2 linked regions of the Homo sapiens genome follow. The protein of the gene in region 1 purifies or fractionates together with the protein of each later gene. This does not show direct contact. Each region holds a gene or a part of one and is shown in the gene's direction. Other genes may lie near its edges.

Region 1 (4,149 bases):
GATACCCCCATATGGGCTCATCTTCTCTTGGGGAGCCTCCAGTCAATAAGTTTCCTCTCTGGGCCCAAGAGAAATCAATTCAGTTGGCCAGGAGAATTGCCAAGCACATATTATGTTAAAAATACTCTTCCAAATAACTGAGAATAAAGACTTTACAGACTAAAGGCCAGGAGCGGTGGCTCACGCCTATAACCCCAGCACTTCATGAGGCCCAGGTGGGCGGATCACATGAGCTCAGGGGTCCCAGACCAACCTGGCTAACGTGGTGAAACCCCGTCTCTACTAAAAATGCAAAAATTAGCCAGGCATGGTGGCACACGCCTGTAGTCCCAGGTACTCGGGAGGCTGAGGCAGGAAAATCGCTTGACCCAGGAGGCGTAGGTTGCCGTGAGCCGAGATCGCGCCATTACAATCCAGCCTGGGAAACAGAGACTCCATCTCAAAATAATAATAAAAATAATAATAACGATAGTATATTAGTAATTAATAACTTAGACAAAACACAACATACCAACTCCAATAAATCCAGCACTTGGATTTGTAATTTATCTCAAGAAATGTGCATTAGGATAATAAAGGAAAATAAATTTAGATCGATACAAGCAGAACTTTGCGTTCTTTTAAAGCCAAGCCTCAGCCTTCCACCCCCCACCGCCCAGGGTCTGACCCCATAAATTCTCTGGAACTCAGCCCATGGTGCATCTCTGCCTCCTGGGTGACTGGGGAGCGGAAATAAAAATTACGTTCCAGTGAAAGTCAATATAAAATTGTACACTCCGCACAGGCACAAAAATGCATCTCATTCCAGTTTCCATCACCTACGCAGACAACTCCAGCTTTCGCTTAATTAAATACAAATTTTAATCGTCCGGATTTCAGAAGTTCCTGGATCCAAGAGCTTCCTTATACCGTCGCCCTCTCCCATCCACCAGGTCCCAGCGCTCCTCCCGCCTCGTCGCAGGACGCGCCTCCATCGCTCGCAGAAACGTTTTCAAGCAAACCTTTCCCATCTTAAGCTCCGATTCCAATATAAGGGGCCCACAGGTCTCTAATTTTTTACTTAGCTAGGCTCCAAAGGACACCATAGAGATTCAAGGGAATCCAAAAGTGAAGAATCGAGTACTGCTGGGCGACAAACAGGCCTAAAAAAGTCGCTGGGACGCGCCGAGGAGAGGTCCGGCAGTCCGACCCCTAGGCCCCGCCCATCCCGCCATTGTCCCCGCCCATCCCGCCATTGTCCCCGCCCATCCCCGCCATTTGCCCGCCCATCCCCACAGTTGTCCGCGCCCTGCCCCTGCCCTTGCCCCTTGCGCCGCCCCAGTGCACTCGCGTACGCGCAGGTTCCTGCCGACCCGGAAGCGGATCTCGCGGGGCTACTGGCGCTCTCGGGTGAGTCTCCGTCTTTCGGGTTCAAGCCTGCGCCTCGCGGGCCACAGGTTCCCACGCTCCGCTGTCGGGTTTTGGGGTCGCCCTGTAGGTTAAAACCCCGAACCTGCTCATTCCTCTCGCGGCGTGGCCCTAAGACGTTCCCAGTCCCGTCGCTCCGAGAGGGTCTAGAGATCTGCGTCCATTTCGGATTAAAATCGTTCTGAAGTGGGTACTGGCCCCGACCTTTTTGCTTTAGGTCAGTGTGGACACCGACCGCCCACCGCGTCGTTTCTCTGCTTAAAACTCTTCTCTGACTCCCTCTTCCCTCCCCCTGGTAAAGCCCTCACTCGGGGTGGATACACACCCTTCGCCCTTCTCCAGGGAGAACAGAGGGGAAGCAGAAATGGAGGATAAAGAGGGAGAAATGCGCGAAATTAGAGAGCCATCAGAAACAATAGCAGGGACTGAAAAAAAGGATGCTACCAGGATGGGGCCAAACACTCTGTCAGAGAAGGAGAGGAAGGGAAGCCAAATGAGCAGAAAGGGACAGGAAAACGCCGAAATGGGAAAAAGAAAAGGAAAGAAACAGAAGGTGGAAGAGAAACATTTATAGAGAGGGGGAAAAAAATCACATAATGGTGGAGAAAGGGGGGGGCACCCAAATCCATGTGAGTGTGGATTGATTTAATATGGAACATTAAGTTGTGAAGTACTGATGTATGGCTCTATAATTAATTTAAAATTTGCTTCATTGTTTGTGCAGAAGAGCATGAAAATTGCAAAACTACGGTGTGAGGCTTCTGCGTTTTCTAATTATTACATCAGAAGCAACCCTTATTCAGCCAGAGGGTTAACTGACTTAGCTCAGTTAATTCCAGCTCACCCTCTTCCCTTTCTCTGATCTTGAGGAGAGTCAAGAAATGGGAAGAAACTGTGACACCGTATGCTGCTTTTGCAAACAGACATTAACAATATTATTCCCTCCTTTTTTGTGTGTGGCTTGTGTCATTTTCTAAATTTGACGTGTATTCAACTTGTCTTAAATGTAATTCCATAATTTATTGGATTTAAAAAAAATTTTCAAAGTATTTTCTCTTAAATGTATTGTTCAGCTTATGAGGTTTAAATGCTTTCTTTTGCTTTCTTTTATTTATTTATTTATTTTTTTGAGACGGAGTCTCACTCTGTCACCCAGGCTGGAGTGCAGTGGCTTGATCTCGGCTCACTGCAACCTCCGCCTCCAGGGTTCAAGCGATTCTCCTGCCTTAGCCTCCCGAGTGGCTGGGATTAAAGGCATGCGCCACCATGCCCGGTGAATTTGTATTTTTAGCAGAGACGGGATTTTCACCTTGTTAGCCAGGCTGGTCTCGAACTCCTGACCTCAGGTGATCTGTCTCCGCCTCTCAAAGCACTGGGATTACAGGCGTGAGCCACCGCGCCTGGCCTAAATGCTTTCTACTTTTTATCATATATTGGAACTATTCTTTTATGTCTGGTACTTGATTTCACAGTGTTTCACTCTAAGGTGTTGATAATCTTTTACCACTTAAAATCTGGTTTAACCAGTTAGTTTAATACAGTTGACCTTGAACAACACCAGTTTGAGCTAAGCAGGTACAACTATACAGGGGATTTTCTTCTACCCCTGCCACTCCTGACACAGCAAAATGAACCTCTTCTCTTCCTTTTCCACTGCAGCCCACACAATATGACCTCGGGGAGGATGCGAGGAAGATGAACTGTGATGATCCACTTCTTCTTAATGAATGGTAAATATATTTTCCCTTCTTTATGATTTTCTTAATCACATTATCTTTTCTCTAGCTTACTTTTTTATAAGAATACAGTATATAATACATGTAACATACAAAATATGTGTTAATCAACTGTTTATGTTTTCAGTAGACTTCTGGTCAACAATGGGTTATCAGTAGTTAAGTTTTTGGGAAATCAAAAGTTATACCTGGATTTTTGACTGGAGGTGGGGTGCGATTAGCACCCCATCACTACTGGTGTTGCTCAAGGCTCAGCTGTATTCAGTTTCTTTACTCCCTTATGTCATCTAAAAGCCTCCCACTAAGTAGATGTTCCTCCAGGTCCCCTTTGTCCTTTCTCTGCAAGATGTTGAAGAATGGCCTGGATTGGTGTGGAATTTTGTTCCAACAGAGCCCGTCTGTTCATAATGAAGAGATTACTCAGCACTAATCTCCACAGCTGACCCCCTTTCATGCTTTCCAAGAGTAATAGCTATTTGTAATTTCATATTTTTGAATATTTTTCTGGAAAAGAGTTAAATCCTTGGGATCAATTAAACCCATGAAATAGAAGTTTCTACTCAGGAATGTGAATGGTGATCTGGAAATAAGGACAAACCTTTGCTACTGCCCTATCCAGGCCACCATTTCAACATTCATTTACAACTGAGTTCTGCTCACTCAACTCAGACCTTTTCCAGGTAACTTGGTGAAATATCTCCTCTCTCTGAGGCTCAGTGTGCCCACCTGTAACGTGGAGATGATGGGTATACCAGAAATTCTGAATCTGAGCCGATGGGATCCCTGAAATGATTTTCAGGATTGAGCATGTGTCTGCATGTGGCAATTTTTTGAGAGAGGGTGCCCAGTTACAGTTAGTCTTAAATGACTCTGAGACCTCCAAAAATGATGGAAACTACTAGGAAAGGGGTCGGGGCATAGGGTTAGAGATAGGAGAGCTGCTTCTCTCTCAGCTTTTTATTCTTTCTCCCTATCTCTACATCAGAAGTAAGTCTTAAGTTTTATT
Region 2 (3,500 bases), on another chromosome or scaffold:
CTGCATGACCTTTCTGAGTACGATGCTGAGTATTCCACGTGGAACAGAGATTATCAGCTGTCTGAAGAGGAGGCGCGAATAGAGGCCCTGTGTGATGAAGAGAGGTATTTAGCCTTGCATACGGACTTGCTTGAGGAGGAGGCAAGGCAAGGTACTGCTCAAGACAAACTTACTTCAGCAACAAACTTTTTAAAATTTTTAAGTATTTAAAAATTTACTCCCATTCATTTTTTTATACTCACTCTTTCTGATATTATCTTGACAGTACCCAGTGGATTGGAAAAACAGGAGTCTTTGCGTTCTGAGAGGACCTCAGGATAGTTTATATATAGAGCCACAAAGAATTTTCCCAGCTTTTGAGGGCAGACTGGGATTTGAAAAAAACAAAAACCAAACTCTTTAACTGTTCTTCTTTAACAGTATCGTATAAATAAAATTGATGTTCTTGTCTTTGCCGTAACAGTCTTTAATACAGTTCTTAATCCCAAAATTTTCTCAGCAGGAAGAAATTTTCCACAAAAGACGTGTATTCAGCTGTCTGTGGGTAAACATGTACTGACAAAAGTACATAATGATAGATATAAAGTGTGAATTTTTAAAACTATTTTACCTCAAAAGTAGGTTGAAAAAAGTATGTTGTATGCTTTACTGATAGCTACAACTTTAGAAATATATAAAGTTTTTCTCAGTAATTTTCTATTTTTGTTGATAAAATTCTCATTTTTATTCAAGAGGAAGAATACAAGCGATTGAGTGAAGCACTAGCAGAGGATGGGAGCTACAATGCCGTGGGGTTCACTTACGGTAGCGACTATTACGACCCGTCAGAGCCGACGGAGGAGGAGGAGCCTTCCAAACAGAGAGGTGAGTGGGGAGCTGCCTGGACTGCTGGTGTAGGGCTACACGTGTACGCACAGGCTGCATGCACCGTGGTCCAGTCTGCAGAACACATCTCTGGCACTCATGATAGCACCACTATGACCACAGGAGAAAACGGGAGTGATATTCCTTCTTTTGGTAAAACGAAGTTAAAAACTAGAATGATTAATGGAGGTGGAAAGTGAATGCGTTGGATTATTTATTTCTCATTGATTCGGGTAACAGAATTACTCATTCAGGATTATTTGTTTCTAGATTGGTAACATGTTCATTAATATCCTCAGGGATTCATTCTTGAGGCAGTGAAAGAATAGGTGTTAACTGGGATAAGTTAACATCACCGCCCTCTCACTGACCTGCTTCCCCATATCCCTCCACAACTGAGACAGTGACACATGCCCAGTGGAAGGACACAGTGAGGGAGTTTCTACTCCCCAGAAAACAGCACAGCTTCCTGGTAGCCTTGATGCCACCTAGGGCATATACTTACCACAGTATTTTAAATTAAAGATTTGGAATTTATGCTTTTCTGGATTAACATGGGAAACTTTGAATATAAAAAATAGTGCTGCTGAAAAACCTGGGCTCGTGTAGTATAGACACAAATATCCTCAATCACTTCACTAAGCGTCGAGAGCTCCACTACCACAGCGCTGCATCATGGTCAGTCGTTAATTAGCAGTAATGCTAACATGAACCTGACACCTTAAAGACGGGTCAGTATATTCAGGATATTCTGTTTAAAAAGAAGAAGAACATTAACTTAGAAACATTCAAATGTTTACATTACATCAAATGGAGATTTAATTGTAGAGCTAATTTAATCTGTTATTCTGAACTTCATCGGTTTCTCCTTAAGTAACACTTTTTATCTTTTTAAATTTTTTTATTAAAATACACAATAATTTAAAAAAAGAGATGGGGTCTCACTGTGTTGCCCAAGCTAGTCTCAAACTCCTGAGCTCAAGTGATCCTACTGCCTTGGCCTCCCAAAGCACTGGGATTACAGGCATGAGCCACCACATCCAGCCAAGTGACACATCTTTTAACAAGTATGAAGCAATTATAGCACTTTAGTAGTAAAGCAAAATGATGTTTGCCCTTCCATCCTGTGACTGCACTATGGTTCTACCCATCGGCACTCTCCAAGGGCTGCGATCCTAACGGAATGATAGGACGTGGGGCAAACGCACACACCGGCTTTCCTTTTGCCCTGTCTTTAGTCCTGCTCCTTACTTTGTGGGCACAAGAATTACTGTTGCACAGCTCTATTTTATGAGCTTTTAGAGAAACTTTCAAGTGTAATTGTAATTATACTGAGTTAAAGGCCAGTTAAGGTATTTAAGACTTTTTGCATTGACTTTCAAACCTACCCATCCCTCAGAAGTTACGATGCACTAGAAATGTTCTATCAGGTCTAAAACGTAAACACCCATTTATTTATCCAGAATAAGCTCTCCTTCCTCGGGTTCTGGATAGTTCTGATTTTGTTGTCTTATCTCTAAGCCACACACATGAGTTCAGCTTTCTATCTGTGGTGTTTTTATCAGAAGGAAGGAATAGATACTATAGCCACTTCACAAATAAAGAGTTGAAATACAGTCAGCTTATTGGGTCCACATCTGTGGATTCAACCAACCACAGATCTAAAGTATTGGAAAGAAAATAACAAAGTTTTATTGGAACACAGCAATGCTCATTTGTTTACATATTGTCTGTTGCCACTTTCGCACTTCAGCAACAGAGTTGAAGAAATGAAACACCATATGGCCCACAAAACCAGAAATATTTATTAATACTGTCTGGCATTTTATAGAGTTTGTCAGCCCCTATTCTAGATGATGGACCATTGTCTCGGCGTAATTATTGGGCTAAATGATGTTCAGTTTGTTATAATTATTGAATCTTGAGAACTTCAGCATGACTTAGCTTATCATCTGAGTATTAGTTTGCTTTCCCCTTAAGATAAAGTTCTCTTTAGTATTTTACAATGTTACTTCTTTTCTTTCTGTAATCGTGTTCTCAGAACATTGCCTTATATACTGATTAATTTCGTTAATGGAAATTGGGCCCACATAAAACTTAGAGCTTGACATTTCGTGTTTAACTTGCATTAATATAAGTGAAACACCTAACACACACACACACATACGTGCATATTGTAATAGAATCCAGTACCACTAACAGCCCCATTGAGCGTCACATTCTGTTAAAATAAAATTTTTTTTCCTGAGCCATCAATATGTCTACGTATGTCTTGATTTTCAAAATTACTGTATTGTATTGTTTGTTAGTATTTTAAAGCCTTGTGATACTAGCCAAAAGCATTTTGATGGTGCCTCCATCTCTGATCTTTACTATTTTCAGTCAAGTTTTTATCCTTTAGATGTTCATAATTTTTCATCATTATTCTATATCCATTTTTTTCCCTCTTTTTTAGGGGAATAATGGGGCGGGGACAGGCCCTCACTGCTATATATCCATTTTTTAAACAAAAGGTTATTTGAATTTATTTAAATCTGAGTTTGTAGTGCAATGGTTGGTTTTTATTTTGTGCTACTAAAGCTGTTTTTTTGTAAATAAAGGTATATATAAGAATAGACCAAATCTGTTTAACCCAT

Evidence for each region. Proteins that work in one complex are often made in the same cells at the same time.
Region 2: the proteins of ZNF677 (region 1) and SFSWAP purify together in Homo sapiens (affinity purification with mass spectrometry; one large-scale study listed by BioGRID and IntAct). This does not show direct contact.

What each region holds. Positions count from the first base shown.
Region 1 is NC_000019.10:53,252,074-53,256,222, reverse strand, and holds the start of ZNF677 (zinc finger protein 677), read left to right. Parts: upstream 1-1,349; 5' UTR 1,350-1,389; intron 1,390-1,399; exon of another isoform or gene 1,400-1,624; intron 1,625-3,066; 5' UTR 3,067-3,137; intron 3,138-4,149. UniProt on the Homo sapiens protein: May be involved in transcriptional regulation.
Region 2 is NC_000012.12:131,714,090-131,717,589, forward strand, and holds part of SFSWAP (splicing factor, suppressor of white-apricot homolog), read left to right. Parts: coding exon 1-151; intron 152-732; coding exon 733-864; intron 865-3,500.